Homo sapiens: one gene and its partners. The protein of the gene in region 1 purifies or fractionates together with the protein of each later gene. This does not show direct contact. Each region holds a gene or a part of one and is shown in the gene's direction. Other genes may lie near its edges.

The links.
Region 2: the proteins of NFKBIL1 (region 1) and LUC7L purify together in Homo sapiens (affinity purification with mass spectrometry; 4 studies listed by BioGRID and IntAct, with this or other methods). This does not show direct contact.
Region 3: the proteins of NFKBIL1 (region 1) and ZRANB2 purify together in Homo sapiens (affinity purification with mass spectrometry; 3 studies listed by BioGRID and IntAct, with this or other methods). This does not show direct contact.
Region 4: the proteins of NFKBIL1 (region 1) and PNN purify together in Homo sapiens (affinity purification with mass spectrometry; 2 studies listed by BioGRID and IntAct, with this or other methods). This does not show direct contact.

What each region holds. Positions count from the first base shown.
Region 1 is NC_000006.12:31,550,586-31,557,628, forward strand, and holds part of NFKBIL1 (NF-kappa-B inhibitor-like protein 1), read left to right. Parts: intron 1-7,042; coding exon 7,043-7,043. UniProt on the Homo sapiens protein: Involved in the regulation of innate immune response. Acts as negative regulator of Toll-like receptor and interferon-regulatory factor (IRF) signaling pathways.
Region 2 is NC_000016.10:188,490-191,492, reverse strand, and holds the end of LUC7L (putative RNA-binding protein Luc7-like 1), read left to right. Parts: intron 1-922; coding exon 923-952; intron 953-1,357; coding exon 1,358-1,525; coding exon of another isoform or gene 1,526-1,529; exon of another isoform or gene 1,530-2,153; coding exon 2,154-2,295; 3' UTR 2,296-2,503; downstream 2,504-3,003. UniProt on the Homo sapiens protein: May bind to RNA via its Arg/Ser-rich domain.
Region 3 is NC_000001.11:71,064,036-71,071,078, reverse strand, and holds part of ZRANB2 (zinc finger Ran-binding domain-containing protein 2), read left to right. Parts: intron 1-82; coding exon 83-252; intron 253-1,716; coding exon 1,717-1,803; intron 1,804-3,362; exon of another isoform or gene 3,363-3,448; intron 3,449-3,894; exon of another isoform or gene 3,895-4,144; coding exon 4,145-4,303; exon of another isoform or gene 4,304-4,313; intron 4,314-5,326; coding exon of another isoform or gene 5,327-5,360; exon of another isoform or gene 5,361-5,941; coding exon 5,942-6,005; 3' UTR 6,006-7,043. UniProt on the Homo sapiens protein: Splice factor required for alternative splicing of TRA2B/SFRS10 transcripts. Binds to ssRNA containing the consensus sequence 5'-AGGUAA-3'. May interfere with constitutive 5'-splice site selection.
Region 4 is NC_000014.9:39,178,228-39,183,737, forward strand, and holds the end of PNN (pinin), read left to right. Parts: intron 1-863; coding exon 864-1,019; intron 1,020-1,096; coding exon 1,097-1,235; intron 1,236-2,275; coding exon 2,276-3,636; 3' UTR 3,637-4,993; downstream 4,994-5,510. UniProt on the Homo sapiens protein: Transcriptional activator binding to the E-box 1 core sequence of the E-cadherin promoter gene; the core-binding sequence is 5'CAGGTG-3'. Capable of reversing CTBP1-mediated transcription repression.

The sequences.
Region 1 (7,043 bases):
CGAAGCAGACCTGCATCCAGACCCCAGCTCTGCCATCAACAGGGACATGCAGCTTACCTCTGTGAGCCCAATTTGCCTCGCAAAAATGGGAGTTTTGTTTTTTGTTTTGTTTTGTTTTTTTGAGATGGAGTTTCCCTGTTGTTGCCCAGGCTAGAGTGCAATGGCGCGATTTCAGCCCACCTCAACCTCTGCCTCCTGGGTTCAAGAGATTCTCCTGCCTCAGCCTCCCAAGTAGCTGGGATTACAGGCATGCACCATCACGCCCGGCTAATTTTGTATTTTTGGTAGAGACGGTTTCTCCGTGTTGGTCAGGCTGGTCTCAAACTCCCGACCTCAGGTGACCTGCCAGCCTAGCCTCCCAAAGTGCTGGGATTACAGGCGTGAGCCACCGCGCTCAGCCAAAATGCCCCTGATAGTGTGGTAGGGATTTCCTTTATTGTTTGTTTGCTTGTTTGTTTTGAGACAGGGTCTCATTCTGTCTCCCAGCCTGGAGTGCAGTGGTGCAATCATGGCTCACTGCAGCCTCTACCTCGTGGGCTCAAGCAGTCCTCCCACCTCAGCCTCCCTAGTAGCTGGGACTACAAGCACACACCACCATGCCCAGCTAATTGTTTGTATTTTTGGTAGAGACTGTTTTGCTATGTTATCCAGGCTGTTCTGCATCTCCTGAGTTCAAACAGTCTGCCCACCTCGGCTTCCCAAAGTGCCGGGACTAGAGGCGTGAGCCACCACACCCAACTCCATTGTATTGAATTTTAAGAAGCTGGTGAGACTGATATTATCCCATTTACAGATGAGGAAAGCAGGGCCCAAAAGGTTCGGGAACTTGTCTGAAATCTCACAGCTCTCAGGTCATTGTCTTCCAAAGGGGGACCCAAGCTCAGTGCCTTCACTCCCAGACCCTGGTGTCCTCTCTGGCCTTATTTACTCCTGGTCCTCTGCCAGCCCTGCCACCAGATGGCCTTCTAACTCCTTGGTTGAAAGGCCCATCTCATTCAGCTTCCAGCTTCCTTTTTCTTTTCCTTTTGAGACGGAGTCTTGCTTTGTCGCCCAGGCTGGAGTGCAGTGGCATGATCTCGGCTCACTATAACTTCTGCTTCCTGGGTTCAAGCGATTCTCCTGCTTCAGCCTCCCAAGTAGCTGAGATTACAGGCACACACCACCATGCCCAGCTAATTTTTTTATTTTTATTTATTAATTTTTAAATTTTTATTTGTTTATTTATTTTTGAGACGGAGTCTCCCTCTGTTCCCCAGGCTGGAGTGCAGTGGCAGTATCTTGACTCACTGCCACCTCCGCCTCCTGGGTTCAAGTGATTCTCCTTCCTCAGCCTCCTGAGTAGCCGGGACTACAGGAGCCTGCCACCATGCCCGACTAACTTTTGTATTTTTAATAGAGATGGGGTTTCACCATGTTGGCCAGACTGCTCTCGAACTCCTGACCTTAGATGATCCACCTGCCTCGGCCTCCCAAAGTGCTGGGATTACAGGCATGAGCCACCATGCCCGACCTAATTTTTGTGTTTTTAGTAGAGATGGGGTTTCAACATGTTGGCCAGGCTGGTCTCAAACTCCTGACCTCAAGTGATCCACCCACCTCAGCCTCCCAAAATGTTGGGATTATAGGCATGAGCCACCGTGCCCATCCCACAGAATGTCTTTTGGTTTTGTTTTTGTTTTCTGTTTTGTTTTGTTTTGTTTTGTTTGAAAAGGAGTCTCATTCTGTCGCCCAGGCTGGAGTGCAGTGGCACAATCTCGGCTCACTGCAACCTCCACCTCCCAGGTTCAAGAGATTCTCCTGCCTCAGCCTCCCAAGTAGCTGGGACTATAGGCGTAGGGACTGTAGGCGTATGCCACCACGCCTGGCTAATTTTTTGTATTTTTAGTAGACACGGGGTTTCACCATGTTAGCCAGGATGGTCTCGATCTCTTGACCTTGTGATCTGCTCACCTCAGCCTCCCAAAGTGTTGGGATTACAGGCGTGAGCCACAGCGCCTGGCCAAAATGTTTTTATGTTTATTTTTCTTAGTATGAAACTCCAGCGTATTAAAGAGCATTGAGAACGGTTGATCTGGTAAATCGCTATAAAGGCGGCATTTCTTTTTTTTTTTTTTTTTTTTTTTTTTTGGCGAAGTGGGGGATGGAGTCTCATTCTGTCGCCCAAGCTGGAGTGCAGTAGTGTGATCTCGGCTCACTGCAAGCTCCGCTTCCCAGGTTCAAGCCATTCTCCTGCCTCAGCCTCCCAAGTAGCTGGGATTACAGGCGCCCGCCACCACGCCCAGCTAATTTTTTGTATTTTTAGTAGAGACAGGGTTTCACTGTGTTGGCCAGGCTGGTCTCGAACTCCTGACCTCATGATCCGCCCGCCTCGGCCTCCCAAAATGCTGGGATTAGAGGCGTGAGCCACCGCGCCAGGCCTAAAGGGGGCATTTCTAATACTGGAGAAAGGTGAACTTTTTTTTTTTTTTTTTTCCGAGACAGAGTCTCGCTGTGTCACCCAGGCTGGAGTGCAATGGCGCAATCTCAGCTTGCTACAACCTCCGCCTCCCGGGTTCAAGCAATTCTCCTGCCTCAGCCTCCTGAGTAGCTGGGCACCTGCCATCATGCCCAGCTAATTTTTGTATTTTTGTAGAGATGGGGGTTTCACCGTGTTGGCCAGGCTGGTCTTAAACTCCTGTCCTGACCTGAGGTGATCCACCCACCTCAGCTTCCCAAAGTGCTGGGATTACAGGCATGAGCCACTGTGCCTGACCAGGTGAACTATTTTATAAATAATATTGGAACATTTGGCTCATCTAGGGAAAAACAAGAGTCCCACCTCACACCTAATCAAAAAGTAAATTCCAGCAGATTAAATACCTGAATATGACAGGAAGGTACACACCAAATTCATGGGACAGATGGCCTGGGGAGGAATGAAACTTGGAAGGCGGTATCACGGTAAACTACCTTTATCTGTGATGATTTTATTTCCTTAAAATAAATTATACTACAAACATGACAGTACATTAACAAACCCTGTGGTAGGAATGGGGTTGTGTATTGTATTATACTTTGTATTTTTGAGAGTTTTTTAATTTCTTTTTTGTTGTTGTTGAGACAGAGTCTCACTCTGTCACCCAGGCTGGAGTCCAGTCGCGCAATCTTGGCTCACTGCAACCTCTGCCTCCCGGGTTCAAGCAGTTCTCTGCCTCAGCCTCCCAAGTAGCTGGGATTACAGGCATCCGCCACCACGTCAGGCTAATTTTTGTATTTTTAGTGGAGACGGGGTTTCACCATCTTGGCCAGACTGGTCTTGAACTCCTGACCTCATGATCCACCCACCTTGGGCTCCCAGAGTGCTGGGATTACAGGCATGAGCCACCGCGCCTGGCCGAGTTTTTTAATTTCTAAAAATAAAAATGAGTATACATCTAAAGTAGTAGAAGAAAATGCAGAGAATGTTTTATAATCTTAAAATAGAGCCTTCCTAAGAGTGAAGTGAAATAAAAAGTCAGAAAATAATATATTGATATAGATTTAACTACATGAAAATTTTAGGCCGGGTGCGATAGCTCACACCTGTAATCCCACACTTTGGGATGCCAAGGTAGGCAGATCACTTGAGCCAGGAGTTCAAGACCAGCCTGAACAACACAGTGAGACCTGGTCTGTACAAAAAATACAAAATTAGCCAGGCGTGGTGGTACGTGGCTGTCGTCCTGTAGTCCCAGTTACTCAGGAGGCTGAGGTGGGAGGATCGCTTGAGCCCAGGTGGGGCAGAGTTTGCAGTGAGCAAGATCATGCCACCGCACTGCAGCCTGGGCAACAGGGTGAGACCTTGTCTCAAAAAGAAAAAAAAAGCTTTTTTAAAGATAGATAGAAGAAAATGTTTGCAATATGTATAACACATACAGTATATAGAACCCTCATATCAATATATATAATTTCCAAAGAAAAAGTGGATAAAGAATATGAGCAATTCATTCACAAAAAATACAAATAGCCAAAAGACATGAAAAAGAAAAAAACATTGTTAATAAAATAATTTTTTAATCTATCCAACTGGCAAAATTAAAAGGGTTGATGATATTCAATTTTGGTAAAGGAAGACATAGGCACACTTGTATATTGGCACAAACTTATTGAGAGCAGTTTGACCAAATTGCGCATGTCCTTTGACTCAGAAATTCCACTTATGAAAATCTACCCCCACAGAAAGACTGTAAGATACTCATGAGGCTGAACATTTTTTGAAACAAAGTCTATCGATATTGGGGTAAGGAGATTTGTTTTGTACACACAGTGGAACACTAATTATAAAGTCGTCAAAAAGTATGAGGTAGACTGTATATATTCCTGTGGAAAAATATAAATGAGATGTTAAATGAAAGAAGCAAGTTGCCAAGCAATATTTGTAGTATGGTTACATATCTCCAAATAAATGTGTCATATGTATGCTTTTAGGTACACCAAGGTGGGACTGGAAGGGATCACAGTACACTGTTAATAGTTATCAAATTTGTTCGTCCTTCTTTAAAAAGAAAATTTCAACTTAATTATATCCCTTTCACATTAAAATGTCAAATAAAATTGGGGGAAAAGCCACCTACAGCCCCACCACCCATAGGCTAGAATTTTTACATATTTTTTGCCAGTCTATTTTTTTTCTTTTTTTTTTTTTTTTTTTGAGATGGGAGTCTCCCTCTGTTGCCCAGGCTGGAGTGCACTGGCATGATCTCAGCTCACTGCAACCTCTGCCTTCCAGGTTCAAGTGATTCTCCTGACTCAGCCTCCCAAGTAGCTGGGATTACAGGCACATGCTACCACGCCTGGCTAATTTTTGTATTTTTAGTAGAGACAGGATTTCACCATGTTGGCCAGGCTGGTCTCGAACTCCTGACCTCAGGTGATCCACCCGCCTCAGCCTCCCAAAGTGCTGGGATTACAGGCCATGAGCCACCACGCCCGGCCTCTTTTTTTCCAACCATAGGATTTGGTCTCTTGTTTTAGACAGTTATTATCTGATCCTCTCTCTCTCTCTCTTTTTTTTTTTTTTTTTTTTTTTTGAGATAGAGTCTCACCCTGTCACCCAGGCTGGAATGCAGAGGCGCGATCTCGGCTCACTGCAACCTCCGCCTCCCAGGTTCAAGCAGTTCTCTGCCTCAACCTCCCAAGTAGCTGGGATTACAGGCGTCAGCCACCACGCCTGGCTAATTTTATATATAATATAAAATATAATTATATATATATTTTGTTTGTTTGTTTTAGTAAAGACGGGTTTTCACCATCTTGGCCAGGCTGGTATTGAACTCCTGACCTTGTGATCCATTGTCCCCCCCCCCCAGCCTCCCAAAGTGCTGGGATTACAGGCGTGAGCCACCGTGCCTGGCCACATCTGATCCTCTCTACAGTTTTGTAGCCAGCTTTTTTCAAACACATGCCTCAGTTGTAGTGGCTGTTTAATATTATGTTTTTATAGTTGGAGGCCCTACTCCTTAAAACCTATGAATGTAAACCTCCCATGCAAGCCTGAGCACTCACCATGCTCACCACCTGAGCTCAGGTGGGGAACAAGCGAATGAGAGACAGGACCAGGTACTTTCTGGGTGGGACAAGTTGAGAGGGTCTGTGACAGGTCACAGCAGCACTAGGGAGAAGTGCCCCCCCCCACCAACCCTGATGTGATTTGGGTAGGGATGGTGGGCCTTCGCCAGCCACACCTGGGCCATTCTGTCTTCTTGCCTTCCTGGCCTTGCCTTCCCCTATTCCAGCTTTCTGCCAGGTAAACAGTACTTTCCAGCACTACCAAATAAAGATTTAAGGACTGCTAGCCCATTTCCTCTTACCCCGGGGAAAGAAAGTAGGTCCACAGGAAGGAAGGCTGCCTCCCTCCCCTTCTTCTATCCCCCAAGTGAAAGAGGTGGTTGGTGGCCACAGCAGGTGGGCCTGGCCAGGATGCCTGGGTTGGCAGTGAAGGAAGTAGCATGGCACTCAGCTAACCTTGGGCCAGATGCAGCAAGGTTGGGACTGAAGAAAAGGGGAGTTCAGGAACGTCGGTTCCTCTCCTGTTTTCTCTCAGCCCATGGGTGAGACCCTCTGTCACACTCCACTCCCTTTCCCCTGCCCTAGGTCAGCAGTCATTTGGAAAGAGCTTGCTCTGCCGCCGGCCATAGTTGTTGCCGGTTCACCTCCCCACCCCTCTCCCATCATCCCCTGGTAAGGCTGGCTGAGAGAAATTCCCCTGAAAACATTTATTTTACTCAGTTTATTGATAAGTGATAATAAAAGATAAGTATTACATATTTGTGTATTTATTAATGGCCCAGAGTAGAGCATTCAGATATTTTCCCAGTCTGATATATGGTTTCAGGTGAGAAAATAAGGGATTTATATAGTGACAATATTTTTAAGTGAAAAGTGGAATACATAGTCAAAGAATTTGGGCACTGCCTTGGTGGCTGGAGGCAGGTCAGAAAATGTCAGTTGGCATGGTAGAACTTCTAGGACGCTGAAATAGTTTGTGGAGACACAAGTAAGAATTTTTTTTTTTTTTTTTTTGAGACGGAGTCTTGCTCTGTCACCTAGGCTGGAGTGCAGTGGCACGATCTCGGCTTACTACAAGCTCCACCTCCCGGGTTCACATCATTCTCCTGCCTCAGCCTGCCGAGTAGCTGGGACTGCAGGCGCCCGCCACCAGGCCTGGCTAATTTTTTGTATTTTTTAGTAGAGATGGGATTTCACCATGTTAGCCAGGATGGTCTTGATCTCCTGACCTCGTGATCCGCCCGCCTCGGACTCCCAAAGTGCTGGGATTACAGGCGTGAGCCACCGCGCCTGGCCGAGAATATTTTAAACTACCACACTTACCATGCATGTGGTAAACTATCAGTCTGTATTTATCAGTGATGGTTATTTCCTAATACCCAGGAGGCATCCATGTGAGCCACCCTTCCATTGCTTTAAGACCAAGGGAGCGAGTGACCAGCAGGATTCAAGATGGCAGCTCTGCCGAGGAGTGGGAGTCCCAGCTAACTTCTGCTCCCTGCTCTCCCACCAACAGC
Region 2 (3,003 bases), on another chromosome or scaffold:
AACACACAATCCATTTTTTGCATGGAGTTTACATTTTTACATGCACTGTCATGTTTAGGCCATTTGTGTTGCGGATGTACATGGGGCCACTTGACCTTAATGGCTTACGGGCATAGAATGAGGCCTCATAGCTTGCCTTTTTCAGCCTCTTGGTTGTGTGGCAGAATGAGCTGATGACTCTCACCTGACAGGAAGCCTGTGCCTGGAACTTCGGGCTTTGCTTTTCCTTTTCTGTGTTTTTGGTGTGCCCCACTCGCTGTCTGCACATTCTGTGCTGGTGTCTGTTGTAAAGACTGGAGAATCATTTGTAGGACTTGAGTGCAGCACAGTCAGTGTGCACAGACTTTTCACGGCCCTTGTAATGTTACAGGGCTGCGTCTGATGCTCGGATGTGGGCCTGTCTGTGAGGCTCAGGTGACACTGAGTGTGCCACAGAGTGGCTGTGGGGATGGGAGCATTGGCACTTCCCATTCAGACTGGGAACATGCAGGCAGCTTGAAAACAGCAGGTCTTTGGGGGAGGTGCCTCACTTCTTAAATTTGGAGTCCTCCCCCAAGAGGGTGAGGAATAGGGGTGCTTTCGGGAAGTCATTCACTTTTTTTTTTTCTTTTTGAGACAAAGTTTTATTCTTGTTGCCCAGGCTGGAGTGCAGTGGCACAATCTCAGCTCACTGCAACCTCTGCCTCCTAGGTTAAAGTGATTTTCCTGCCTCAGTCTCCTGAGTAGCTGGGATTACAGGCACCCGCCACCACGCCTGGCCAGGTTTTGTGTTCTCAGTAGAGACGGGGTTTCACCACGTTGTCCAGGCTGGTCTCCAGCTCGTGACCTCAGGTGATTGCCTGCCTAGGCCTCCCCGAAGTGCTGGGATTACAGGTGTGAGCCACCATGCCTGGCCTTGTTCATCTTTTTTTCCCCCTTTTAGGTCGGGATCAAGAACCAGAGATCGCAGGAGGTAGGTTTCCAGGTCCATTAAAATGTTCTCAAATTTTTTTTTCCATAAGCATTTTTCTTAATATTTAATGATTATGCCTTTACAAATGTTACCTGGCAGGTAGGGCTGGCTTGTGAAGGGCACAGGGCAAGAGGTTGCTTGGTGCCGTGGAGGGTTCCCAGTGTTAATGAGAGGGAAGGTCGGGGCCTGCAGGGTGACAGGAGTATCCAGGCCACATGTTTTCAGGAGACCTCATTGGAAGGACCTAGCCATTGGAGATTAACTGATGGAAATATTTTAAACCTAAATTTGTGGGAGTAAAGGAGAAAATGTCAGTAAAGCAGCAAGCAGAATCTGCTGAGGGGTGGGGCCCTCATAGTGTTGGCACCTATAGAGTCTCAGCCTTGGAGCCTTCTGATTGTTCAGGTCACGCTCCCGGGATCGGCGTCGGAGGCGGTCAAGATCTACCTCCCGAGAGCGACGGAAATTGTCCCGGTCCCGGTCCCGAGATAGACATCGGCGCCACCGCAGCCGTTCCCGGAGCCACAGCCGGGGACATCGTCGGGCTTCCCGGGACCGAAGTGCGAAATACAAGTAACTACTCTGACTCCTTCGGTAGCTGCAACCAGGAGTGAGCCCTTCTCTGTGTTCCCAGGGTCTGCTGAGGGCCGTGTCTGGTGGGGATGGGGCTGGGCTCACCCTCAGGAGTAGGGCTGGGGAGTCGTGAACGGGACTCAGGTGTGGGAAGAGGCGAGAGGGCTGTGGAGGAGCTCGCACGGCGCCAGGTGATGGGCTGCACAGGCACTGTCCCCTGCCTGCGTCCTGGGGCCTGTGCACTGTTGCGTCCATGCTCAGAGTGGCTGAGACTTGTGTCCTGACCAGGCCCTGCTTACCTCTGTTTTGGTTTTTGTTTTTGATATTTTTTTTTCCATTGTGTTTTTACGTAGTGTCATGTTCTGTGCATATAGTGTTGTATTCTCCTTTGCACTGTTTATGTTACAGTGAAGGCTCTCCTTATTAAAAATCTTCGCAAAGGTCACTTTTTAATGGCTATCTAACACTCCATATGTGGTGGGCAAGTCTGGTTGGCCTCCGGGGGGTTTCCAGGTATAGGGGATGTAGGGCCTTGCCTGGCCTGGTCTGCGGGTCCATCGTCAGTGCCTGAGCGGCCAGCAGAAGGGGGGCAGCAGCCTCCACTGAGCCTCTGGTTCCCATTTCCCAGGTTCTCCAGAGAGCGGGCATCCAGAGAGGAGTCCTGGGAGAGCGGGCGGAGCGAGCGAGGGCCCCCGGACTGGAGGCTTGAGAGCTCCAACGGGAAGATGGCTTCACGGAGGTCAGAAGAGAAGGAGGCCGGCGAGATCTGAACCCGTCTCCCGGGTGCTGTAAATAGTCTGATAAACGTTCACACAGTCTAAAATTACCCTTTATATTTGCTGAATACAACTCATCTTTTGTAGTTTAAAATTTCTATTGTTTTGGAGCTAGCTGTGAGTTTCTAGAAGTGTACAGAGTTGCTCCTGTGTTCCCGGGTCATGTTGAGTAGGAATAAATAAATCTGATGCTGCCTCCTGAGGCTGCGGGGGGTTTCTGCTGTCCTCTGCGTAGAGGCTTTTCACTGTGACCCTGTGCCAGTGCCACCAGCACCTCACAGAAACCGTGACTTACTCGTGGGTCACGTCTTGTCTTCTGGCATCCAGTAGATGGCAGGGCACTTCCTGTCCCCTGCATCTGACTGACGGGACCCAGGTGTGCATGGGTGTTTGTTTGCTCGCTCCCACACAACCTTCTGAGTGTCTGAGCTGCCCATCTCCCATGGGGAGGAGGGAGGGGTCCCCATTCTGCATTCATTTATTTAGGAAAAGCTGTCTTGTCTGCTCAGCTGCTACCATAGCCTTAACTTGGGACTCAGGTGAGTTACACTGCATGTCCCCTTTTGAAGTTACTAGCAGAAAACAAAGACCCATGGGGCTGGGCATGGTGACACATGCCTGTAGTCCCAGCTACTACTAAGAAGGCTGAGGCAGGAGGATCTGTTGAGCACAGGACACTGAGGCAAACCTTGATTCCGCCAC
Region 3 (7,043 bases), on another chromosome or scaffold:
GCTCAGTACACCTAACTGTTTTATCTTTCCTGGTAGGTAACACTAATATCTAAATGTCTAATTATAATTGAATTTTTGTTAGGATGAGGATGAAGATGACGCTGATCTCTCAAAATATAATCTTGATGCCAGTGAAGAAGAAGATAGTAATAAAAAGAAATCTAATAGACGAAGTCGCTCAAAGTCTCGATCTTCACATTCACGATCTTCATCACGCTCATCCTCCCCCTCAAGTTCAAGGTCTAGGTCCAGGTAAACGGGTACAGGTCAAGGGTAACACCAGTCAAAATGTCAGTATCTAACTTTTTTATTTATAAATTTTGTTTTTCTTGACGAAATAAACTTTCCTTTTTATTTTAAAAATTTAATTCAAATCAACTTTTAAAATAATTTTTCAGCTTAGTACCATACAGTTGTTGTCCAGTATTTTTAGAAAAGTAAAGTCTTAGCATGAAACTTCCTTAACCTATTTTAGCCTCATGCTTTTGACTAAAATAGACTTAAAAACTGAATTAAATTTTTATATACACTTATATTTAATTAATCTAAAGAGATAGCTTACATATAGAAATTAAGTAAAGGGGAGATCTGTATTTTCATTCAAGATGTTAAAGGCTAGCACAGAAATTTTCTAGGCATTAAATCATTGCTTATTACATAATGTTTTTAATAGTTTGCTTTGATATCAGTATTGTGAATAACGGAGCAAATTCAGCCATATTAGTTCTGTTGACTTCATGCTCATAATTTTGAGAAGTCCAGGCGTAAACTAAAACTCTTTTGGTGTACTTGAATATTGTTTGTTGATGTAAAATATGTAATCTCTGATTTTATAGTTAACAATAAAAATAAAATTTTAGGTGAGTGAAAGCAGTGATTTAAATTTAACAGTGTCCTCTTGAAAAACCTTAATCACAGTTAAGTGATGGCATGGGCAATGAATTTTAATCATATTTAGGAATAAAATACTAGATATTAGTGTATAACAATTAGATATATGTTAATTGAGCACTACAAAGCCTGAAAGCTTAACAAAGTGGGGCTATAACTAGTAATTTTTTGGTAAAAATATAGTGATCTTTTTCTACAGGGTATTATTATAAGGGACAAATTATAGTTGTAAATTAGATTAATGAATTTTGTGAGTTTTAAAATTTGTACGAACCATGTCTCCCTTGTGTCATATTTTCCAATAATATAATTACCTAACAATGACAGAATTATACATTTTCCCTTTAATTCTCTAAGCATTGAGTAAACAGAAAAATATAGGGATGAAATACACACATGCCAACATTCAAAACTTTGTACTAACTAGAAACAAAAATAGAAGGGGATTTATAAAGGAAAATGATGGAGACATTTTAGAGAAATTAAGTATAAATCGCAACATTCTGTTTTCTTGGATGTATTCTGGGTAGCTTCTAGTTACTTGTAAACAAAGTATTCATTGTTTTTGTAATAAAGTGATAATGTTTTGTTTTATAGTTGAGTGGCTTTAGGGTAATTTAATCACCTGGAAAGTGATATTTTTTTAATTACCTTTTGTTACTAAATCTTATCTAATTTAAAATACTATGTTTTGAAAGTATATATCTTGTATAGTTATCTTTTTATATGAAAATGAACTCTAATACATATCTTTCTTTCAGTGTTCATATCACAAAGCTCAATTAAATGGTCCTGGAAAAAAAAAATCGTTCCATGTTGTTCCAGGTCCCGTTCAAGAAGTTCTTCCAGTTCGCAGTCAAGATCTCGTTCCAGTTCCAGAGAACGTTCGAGATCTCGTGGGTCGAAATCAAGGTGAATGAGGTAGCATCTCTCTGTAAAGCAGAGAGAAAAATATTTAAAGGCTGCAGAAGGTGTTGCTGCTTTTTTTCCCCTTATTTTGCTTCTACTTGTCGATTTTATTTTAGCATTAGAAAACTAATGCACTTGCCTCAGCTTAATTTTCTCACCATGAAATGTTTCCATTGCCAGCAGTGTGCCAAGACATTCCCATGATTGAAATCAGGTGGCTATTTTGCAATATGCAGCGTTTATTATTTTGGCACTAAGATGTTATGAAGTAGGAAGATGAAGCCAAGTCTTATCGCCACATCTCTAGTATATTAAGATTATATATGGCCAGGCACAGTGATTCATGCCTATAATCCCAGCACTTTGGGAAGCTGAGGTGGGAGGATCACTTGAGGCCAGGAGTTCAAGGTTGTAGTGAACCTTGATCACAGCACTGTAATCCAGCCTGGGTGACAGAGGAGTGTCTCAAAAAAAAAAAAAATTAATAGTAGTTCAAATAAAATTACATATGTAAATAAAAAGAAAAATTTTCTTCATTATTAAAAGGAAGAAAAATAACCCTGCCTCAAAACAGGTCCTGTTTTGCACGGCAGTTGTTTCAATATTTTCAGAAACAAATTTGCCATTTATATCAGATAAAGTTACTAGAGTACTGTATATACATTTTCCTTTCTAATTTTACACACGCTATTATTTATAGAGCACAAAACACTCAAAACTAAATCAGGAAGTATAGTCGGTTAGTTGAGATAGGATGTGGTCTTAAGTAGTAAACAGTGTTCTAAAGTTTCAGGTTGCATGTAGTCACATCTGTAGAGGGAAACATAATTTGAAAGATGCTCTTGCAGGAAATTTTTCTTTGTTTAGTCAAAATATGCTCTCTTTGTTTTTAAGTTAATTTATTATGACCTAAAGGCATCTAAAAAATAAATAAGAAAATGAAATTCCATATTTGTGGAAATTCATATTGAAGTCTAACTGTGGCTGTTTTGGTAAAAGTATTTGCTGCTTTGAATCAAATTTAGCATTAAAGGGCTGCCACAGTATAATCATGTTAAGGAGAAAAGAATGTTGTGCACACTTGCATTATAAGCCAATAAGAAATAGATAACAAGGCCAGGCTCAGTGGCTCACGCCTGTAATCCCAATACCTTGGGAGGCCAAGGTGGGCGGGCTGCTTGAGCCCAGGAGTTCAAGACCAGCCTGGGCAATATAGTGAGACCTCGTCTACTAAAAATAAAAATTAAAACAACCAGCCAGGCATGGTGGTGTGTTCTTATAGGCTGAGGTGGAAGGATCACTGGAGCCCTGGAGATTAAGGGTGCAGTGAGCCATGCTTATGCTACTGCACCACAGCCTGGGGAACAGAGCAAGATCCTGTCTCAAAAAAAAAAAAAAAAATAGAAGTAGAGAGCAAATTATTTTTTATTGTTACCATTATTTAGTAACAATATTTAAGCGCTTTATAGGTAAAAATCCTTAAGTTCTGGTATTCCCTTTGGGAACCATTATAATTAAGGTTTACAGAACACCCATCATATTCTTCCCAAACATTTTTTCATTGCTTGTAACTTTCCAAAGAATTCTCCTTTTGGGCTTTCTGGTTTTATTTTAAGCCCAAAGGTGAATTTTTTGGGAAGTTTGAGCTAAATTCCTTCAACCAAAATATACAAGTGAAGAAAAAAAATTTGTATTTAAACATTTGCACATTTACTTCTACCTGAAGCATGTGAATGTCAACACTTCATATTTCATAAGTAGTGGGTTTTCATAAAAATAGTATTGTAAATATAAATCATCTTAAAGTTAGTTTTTATTTCTTCTTGAATATTTAGCAGTTAAGTACAGTTACTAGTCTTTTGTTGCTGTGCCATATACCTGGTTTTTCCATAACAGTTTAATGAGTTGAATAATTCCACATGGAATTATGTTTATTTTCCTCAGGAAGTGGTATATAAGATACATATTTTAATCCTCAAATGGAAGGATGTAGTTCCTAAACGTAAAGTCCTGTTAATGCAGTTATCTGCTGATTTTATAATACTATAATATTTGTGTATACTTTGAAAAGCCTTAAAAAAAGTTTAAATTCTATTTTGATATAGTAAGCAGGGTTTTAATTACACATGATAGAATTTTAAAGAGACAAAATTAAAATGTTTAAGTAGAATGTTTTCATGGTTGATCCAGAAGTCTTCTGTTGAATAAGCAGTAAGTATTCTTCCTTATAAAATTTTCATAGTTGTTATAAATCCTGTTTATTTTTGGAGCTATCTGATAACTAAATAATCTTCCTTATTTCTTCTTTTAATGAAATGTTTGATTTGTTTCTCAATCAATGAAGATCCAGCTCCAGGTCCCACAGGGGCTCTTCTTCCCCACGAAAAAGATCTTATTCAAGTTCATCATCTTCTCCTGAGAGGAACAGAAAGAGAAGTCGTTCTAGATCTTCTTCATCTGGTGATCGCAAAAAAAGACGAACAAGATCACGGTCACCCGAAAGGTTTGGGTTTCTGTAGAAATAAGAATGGGTGTTCTTAAGTGTGTTTAATAGATAAAGTAAACTTTCCTAGTCAAGGGTTAGATTTTTATTATCTCTTGTGTTCCGACTTTCTACTTTTCAACTTTGAACTTCAAAAAAACATTACTTTGCTTATCCTTTGTACTTTGATCAGGTTGTTTAGAATTGTAGATCAAACCATTCTTTGATCATTTTATTGTTTAAATTTTTAGTTCCATTTATAATTTTTATAGCCAACTCTCGGTTATTTCTGTCTTTTGAGATTGCAATTCAGAAGCTGTATGTCGAAGTAATTTATGAGTTGACTTTTATACTTAGGCTTCTTTAAATACTAATAGTCAAGAATTCTAGAGCATCTAATAAAAAATTAACTTTCAGATCATTGGGAATCTGTCCTCATTTAAATATGTGTAAATGCATTTCCACAGCAAATTGCTTCATGCCCTTTGTCTATAAGGAAATTATTCCTTGTAGCTAATACATTTTTCATTTTGCAGTCCAAATCTTTTTTGAGAAAGGCCTATATTAGGTTACTTTATCTGTACTGACACTTTTAATATTGGAAGAATGCAACTGTCATCTGTCAGCCTTTTCTGCAACAGGCTAATTACTCAGTTTCATTAATTTTCTCTTTGTTCCCAATTATATAGTCATTTTAATGGCTTTATTTGTAGTCTTTGCAAATTTTTCATATTTTATTAGCTTGTGAAAATAAAGATTATGTAAAGTCTATTAATTGCTGGGTTCAGTGGTAGGATTATCTCATGATTCCTACTTGTACAGAATGATTAGTTTTGCTTCTTCACATTTTGGAGTTTAGATGTTAAGATTTCACACAGTCTTGTTTCTCTGCATTTGTTTCTTTGTAAAAAAAATTACTCTGTTTTTGAGTGGAATTCATTCTGTTGCTTTCTTACCACTTCTGCAAATTTTTATCTTAGCCACATATAATCCCCCTAGTTTGTTGTCATCTAAACTTAATGAACATGTTCTCTATTCCATAAGCCAGGTGATTGGTGAAAACACTAAACAACCCTGAGCCCAGGGCCAACCCCTACGGAACACCACTACTTTACCCAGGTTGATATTGACTTATTCATACTAGCTGCATGAATATAACCCTATAGCAAATTGTACAATCATCTTGTGTGACCTAGATTTCCAAAACTTATTTATGAGTATATTTTCTCATACACAGAAGCCTTGCTGTATCTTTTTTACATAATAGACTTCTTACACTTTCTACACCGTGTCACAGGGATTGGTTTAGTCACACTTCCATTACCAAGTTTATATGCTTTTGTTGTACATTTTCTGTAATTTTACACATTTTTGCAAGGCTTTTCTTTGATATCTTAAATAATTGAGAGGTGGCTATATTTTGAAATGAGATTCTTTTGAAATTGTAGAGAATTTTTTATTGTATTTATATGATAACTGGGCTCATATCCAAAGTCTAAACATCAGATAATTTTATGTGTGTAAGTTCCTATCTCAATTTTTAATTTTTTTGCTAGCATCATGGTACTGAATTTTGTATACTTTCACAGTCTTAAGAATGAATGCTGAGATTTAGCTCTAGCTTACTAGAATGCCTACTCTCTCCATTATGTCTTACAGACGCCACAGGTCATCATCTGGATCATCCCATTCTGGTTCCCGTTCAAGTTCAAAAAAGAAATAATGTATTAAAATTTACATCTTAAAAAAATCCAGTACAGTGCATGAAGCATATTTTTAAAGAAGTTGGTGTCTTACTTGGTCAGAAGTGCTAAATCTGCTAGTAGAGGTGCATGCCTTTCATTGCTTTTCAAAACAATACAGCTGTGTTTATTTGTGAAGTTAAAAGTAAATAGCATTTTAAGCCATAATGTCCCAAAATAGATGTTCTGTCATTCATTATTTACAACCATTTGCTTCATTTAAAACCATTTCAGCTATAACAAAGTACTTTGCTTCCTAATTTAAACCCATTTTTGTCATTTCCAAATACATCCTGTCCATTGGCTAAGACAGGATTACCTAGGCTTGCCTGAACTTTGGGCATGGAAGAAAGACTGGAAACTAGTTGGAAACAACATACTTATGGAAAAGAAAGTCAGCCTTTTTATGCTGTTAACAGATGTCAGAGTGATTCTCACCAAAAAAAGTTAAACTATGTTGTAAGCAGCCAACTGTAAATGTCTATTTTGAAATTCCCTATGCTAAGGGTGCCTTAGAATCATTGTGTCTCTTTTATCCAGCTTTACTTTTTTGCTCCACATTTAATGCAAAAGAATCTTGTGATGTCTACAAGGAGAGAAGTGGGATATATTTTCCTTTCTGACACATAATTTGGGGCAAAAAAGAAAGTCTTAAGAGTTTATCTTTTCTCTGCTGATACGGTTGCTTGATAAAGACATCTCAAAATGTTTACCAATGTTTTAAGAAGCTTTGTGTGATATTCTTCCAAATGTAGTTACCAAATATAATATGGTAGAAAAGGCTAAATCATACTTAATGAGCAAATTGAAGTAAGCTTTTAAAGTATATTTCTCTTTTGGTGAAAGGCCAATGGAGACATTGTGAATTTAAGTGAACATTTGCCTCAAGATGTTAACTATAAACACACTGCATACAATTTTCTTCTGAATAACAAATGAATGCTTATTGCTGCATGATGTAAGCAAAAGTCATTATTTTTCCTATTCATTTGAAATAAGTTATGGCTTAAAATGCTTTT
Region 4 (5,510 bases), on another chromosome or scaffold:
TGAATTGAAAATGTGAAGCGGCCAGGTGCAGTGGCTCATGCCTGTAATCCCAGCACTTTGGGAGGCTGAGGCAGGTGGATCACCTGAGGTCAGAAGTTTTTCGAGACCAGCCTGGCCAACATGGTGAAACCCTGTCTTTACTAAAAATACAAAATTAGCCGCCTGTGGTGGCATGCGCCTGTAATCCCCAGCTATTTGGGAGGCGGAGGCAAGAGAATCACTTGAACCCTGGAGGTGAGGTTGCAATGAGCCAAGATCACACTATTGTACCCCAGCCTGGGCAACAGGCGCAAAACTCCATCTCAAAAAAAGAAAAAATGTGAAGCATATGCAGATACCTTTTTTTTTTCTTTTTCTTTTTTTTTGTAGAGATGGGGTTTTATCATGTTGCCCAGGCTGGTCTGAGCTCAAAGCAATCCACCCACCTCAGCCTCCCAGAGTGCTGGGATGACAGGTGTGAGCCACTGTGCCCGGCCTGCAGATACCTTTACATAGTGAAAAAAAAAAAAAAAAAAAAAATTTTTTTTGAGATGGAGTTTGGCTCTTCTTGCTCAGGCTGGAGTGTAGTGGCGTGATCTCAGCTCACTGCAACCTCCGCCTCTGGGGTTCAAGTGATTTCTCCTGCTTCGGCCTCCCAAGTAGCTGGGATTATAGGTGCGTGCAACCACGCCCTGTTAATTTTTTTGTGTTTTTAGTAGAGATGGTGGTGTTGGCTTCTGACTTCAGATGATCTACCTGCCTCTAATGTTTCACGTAATTAGTATGTGTAATAACTTTTTATCATAATTGAACTGAAATCATATATACCTTTTGTTGTAACTATTTCAACACGTAAGTATTAAAGCAGGCTACTTAACTTTTAGCAAAAGCGGCGCCAGGAAATTGAACAAAAACTTGAAGTTCAGGCAGAAGAAGAGAGAAAGCAGGTTGAAAATGAAAGGAGAGAACTGTTTGAAGAGAGGCGTGCTAAACAGACAGAACTGCGGCTTTTGGAACAGAAAGTTGAGCTTGCGCAGCTGGTGAGTGGTAATTTGGAATTCTAAGATTGGTAATCCTTTGTGTTTACAAAAGCACTGACCCTTTACCTTTTCTTTAGCAAGAAGAATGGAATGAACATAATGCCAAAATAATTAAATATATAAGAACTAAGACAAAGCCCCATTTGTTTTATATTCCTGGAAGAATGTGTCCAGCTACCCAAAAACTAATAGAAGAGTCACAGAGAAAAATGAACGGTAAGTATGCGAAGAGGTCCATTGAATTGTTCATAGTGGGTAAGGTAATATGTTCATATGCACACGTTTGTTTTCTAAAATAATTATGATTCAGTGATTGGTTTGCTGTGTTTGCTTTTTTTTTTTAAATAAGATAATAAGATATTCTAGGCCGGGCGTGGTGGCTCACGCCTGTAATCCCAGCACTTTGGGAGGCTGAGGCAGGCAGATCATGAGGTCAGGAGATCGAGACCATCCCGGCTAACATGGTGAAACCCCGTCTCTAGTCTCTACTAAAAATACAAAAAAAATTAGCTGGGCATGGTGGTGGGCACCTGTAATTCCAGCTACTTGGCAGGCTGAGGCAGGAGAATCACTTGAACCTGGGAGGCAGAAGTTGCAGTGAGCCGAGATTACGCCACTGAACTCCAGCCTGGGCAACAGAGCTAGACTCCATCTCAAAAAAAAAAAAAAAGATACATTCTGAGATGCTGGTGAGTTTGTAGTATAGGAATATTTGTATCATGATGGAGTTTAATGTGAAAGTTATAGACAGTGCTTATGCATCTGTATTCCTTAAGCATTTGTGTAAAATTACTTTTTTTTGCATGCTATTATTGTTCTGATAAAATGCTAATAAGACAAATGTGAAAACCAACTCAGTTTCTAGATGGAAAACACATGGAAGGATAGACACTGCTAAGATGATGATTTATCTCTTTGGGATCAGAAAAATTAATATATATGATTTTATGCCAAAACTGGTTCTGTTTTACAGAAGTTTTATTTTTCATCAGACATAAAGATTGATCTGTTTTCTTCATCAGTTAGAAAATGTGTAGTTCTGTCTGCCACAATTTCTAGTATGTAGATTTCCCATGGATCTTTGCTTTTATAATTTTATGTCAGTTTGTGGTTACTTAATTGCCATAATCTTTTGTCATAACTTTACAAAAACAAATTCAGATGAAGCTTAATGACAATTTGTGACCAGTTATAAAATTATGGCTTTGAATTTTCTTAATCGGTAAATTTTACACATGTAAATTTTTATTCTTTAGCTTTATTTGAAGGTAGACGCATCGAATTTGCAGAACAAATAAATAAAATGGAGGCTAGGCCTAGAAGACAATCAATGAAGGAAAAAGAGCATCAGGTGGTGCGTAATGAAGAACAGAAGGCGGAACAAGAAGAGGGTAAGGTGGCTCAGCGAGAGGAAGAGTTGGAGGAGACAGGTAATCAGCACAATGATGTAGAAATAGAGGAAGCAGGAGAGGAAGAGGAAAAGGAAATAGCGATTGTTCATAGTGATGCAGAGAAAGAACAGGAGGAGGAAGAACAAAAACAGGAAATGGAGGTTAAGATGGAGGAGGAAACTGAGGTAAGGGAAAGTGAGAAGCAGCAGGATAGTCAGCCTGAAGAAGTTATGGATGTGCTAGAGATGGTTGAGAATGTCAAACATGTAATTGCTGACCAGGAGGTAATGGAAACTAATCGAGTTGAAAGTGTAGAACCTTCAGAAAATGAAGCTAGCAAAGAATTGGAACCAGAAATGGAATTTGAAATTGAGCCAGATAAAGAATGTAAAACCCTTTCTCCTGGGAAAGAGAATGTCAGTGCTTTAGACATGGAAAAGGAGTCTGAGGAAAAAGAAGAAAAAGAATCTGAGCCCCAACCTGAGCCTGTGGCTCAACCTCAGCCTCAGTCTCAGCCCCAGCTTCAGCTTCAATCCCAGTCCCAACCAGTACTCCAGTCCCAGCCTCCCTCTCAGCCTGAGGATTTGTCATTAGCTGTTTTACAGCCAACACCCCAAGTTACTCAGGAGCAAGGGCATTTACTACCTGAGAGGAAGGATTTTCCTGTAGAGTCTGTAAAACTCACTGAGGTACCAGTAGAGCCAGTCTTGACAGTACATCCAGAGAGCAAGAGCAAAACCAAAACTAGGAGCAGAAGTAGAGGTCGAGCTAGAAATAAAACAAGCAAGAGTAGAAGTCGAAGCAGTAGCAGTAGCAGTTCTAGTAGCAGTTCAACCAGTAGCAGCAGTGGAAGTAGTTCCAGCAGTGGAAGTAGTAGCAGTCGCAGTAGTTCCAGTAGCAGCTCCAGTACAAGTGGCAGCAGCAGCAGAGATAGTAGCAGTAGCACTAGTAGTAGTAGTGAGAGTAGAAGTCGGAGTAGGGGCCGGGGACATAATAGAGATAGAAAGCACAGAAGGAGCGTGGATCGGAAGAGAAGGGATACTTCAGGACTAGAAAGAAGTCACAAATCTTCAAAAGGTGGTAGTAGTAGAGATACAAAAGGATCAAAGGATAAGAATTCCCGGTCCGACAGAAAGAGGTCTATATCAGAGAGTAGTCGATCAGGCAAAAGATCTTCAAGAAGTGAAAGAGACCGAAAATCAGACAGGAAAGACAAAAGGCGTTAATGGAAGAAGCCAGGCTTTCTTAGCCATTCTTTGCAGCAGAAGATTTCTTGATAAAAAAGGATTACCTTTCCTTGTAAAGAGGATGCTGCCTTAAGAATTGCATGTTGTAAAAAATCTTTTTGGAAAATACAGACTGTTTGTTTACCAGACATTCTTGTACTTTTTGCATAATTTTGTAAGAGTTATTTATCAAAATTATGTGAGGTTCCAAAATATGTAAAAATGATAATAATAAAAAAAGATTAACATCCCTTGTCATCTTTTTTAAATATCCTATACTCTTCAGTAAGAATCTGTATATTTTAATAGGCAAATCTTTAAGTCTGTTCCCTTCTAATTCTGTATCATACATTGCTTTTGTAGAAATAAATGTGTGTTTATTTCATTATTTTTGGGATGTCCTCGTTGACACTTGTATAATAAATATCCTCTTTATCATTTTCAGCTTTTAACACTAGATACTGCACGTGATTAGAATGTTTTTGAAGGTTTCCTCGTTTTTATTTGCCTTGGACAGTTTTTAGTTGTCAGAGTCAGAGCTTTGCAGCTTTGAGGGGGAACAGTTCTCTTTAAAATCATTTGCTATTTTCTATTCTCCCTTGTTATTTTAATCTAAGCATTTTCCCCCGTTTCTCATATTTTAACCATATGTTCGGTAGATAACTAAACAGTATGATCTGGTTGGCATTTTCTTCCTGATGATGGGAGCGTCATTCTTTTGTCTTCATGGTTACTTGTGTGATATAACATACATCTGTTAAAGAAAATCACTTCTTTCTAGGGGAGGGAGGTAGAAAAGTATCTTTCAAACTTGGTTTTTGAGTTTGTGTCTTGTCTTAACTTTGTGTTGGCTCTAACTTAAACATGCTGATATGTGTTTTCAAGAATTTTGTTTAAGGAAGTATTGTATGGAAGTCCACAAAATGAAGGAAGTTCATCTAGGTTTTAATATGTAAGCAAGATAACACACAAGTGTACCAAGTGATTATTAACTTTGTTGTTTTACAAATTTGTATGAACTTGGAGTATCTGTTGGCCATTACTATACATGTGCAAATAAATGTGGCTTAGACTTGTGTGACTGCTTAAGACTAGTACTTGTATTAACTTTCTGATGCTTTATACAAGAGAGCACTTAAATTGCATCCTTCTTTGAGTTTAACACTGTAGCTTTAGCCTTGACTTTGAATATTCATTTTGCCTTCCCTTGACAAGTAAATGGTTACAGTGAAAATGTGAAGAAGTATTTCCAGTTAGTTTTTGTGTGTATATAACTCACTTGTGTAAGTGGATGTGTTAAAAGATCTCTTTTTAAAAATCCTTTTATTGGAGTAATTATTAAAACAGTAAATGCATAGAGCTTTGCACAGCAATCTGTATCCATGAGCCAGTTCCACCACTAGTACCTTCATCTGTGGCTTATCCAGCAAAATGTTTCATTTCCTGTGTGCCCTGGCAGGAAAGAGGTTGGTAAATAGTGAATTAAAGGGATGATCATAAAATTTAACCTGGTTAAAAAGCACCTTATTTGATGACAGTTTGTATGCACTAAAATCCTTTATACAAATTAAGTTTTGTCTACTGATTTGTACCTGGAAAATCTGAACAATATTCATGTTGCTTACAGAAAAGGCTAGTATTGGCTTGAAGCTCTACTATAGGAGGGGTAGTAATGGGGGTATAATGAATGCTTGAGGGGAAAGTAATTTTCAGTAATTTCAGTTAAGCGCTACTGATCATAGTATGTGAAAGGAATTTTTCTTATATGGAATGCTTGATGAATTTGCATGTCATCCTTGTGCAGGGGCCATTTTAATCTTTTTTTTTTTTTTTTTTTTTCTCGGAGACAGGGTCTTAGTCTGTCACCCAGGCTG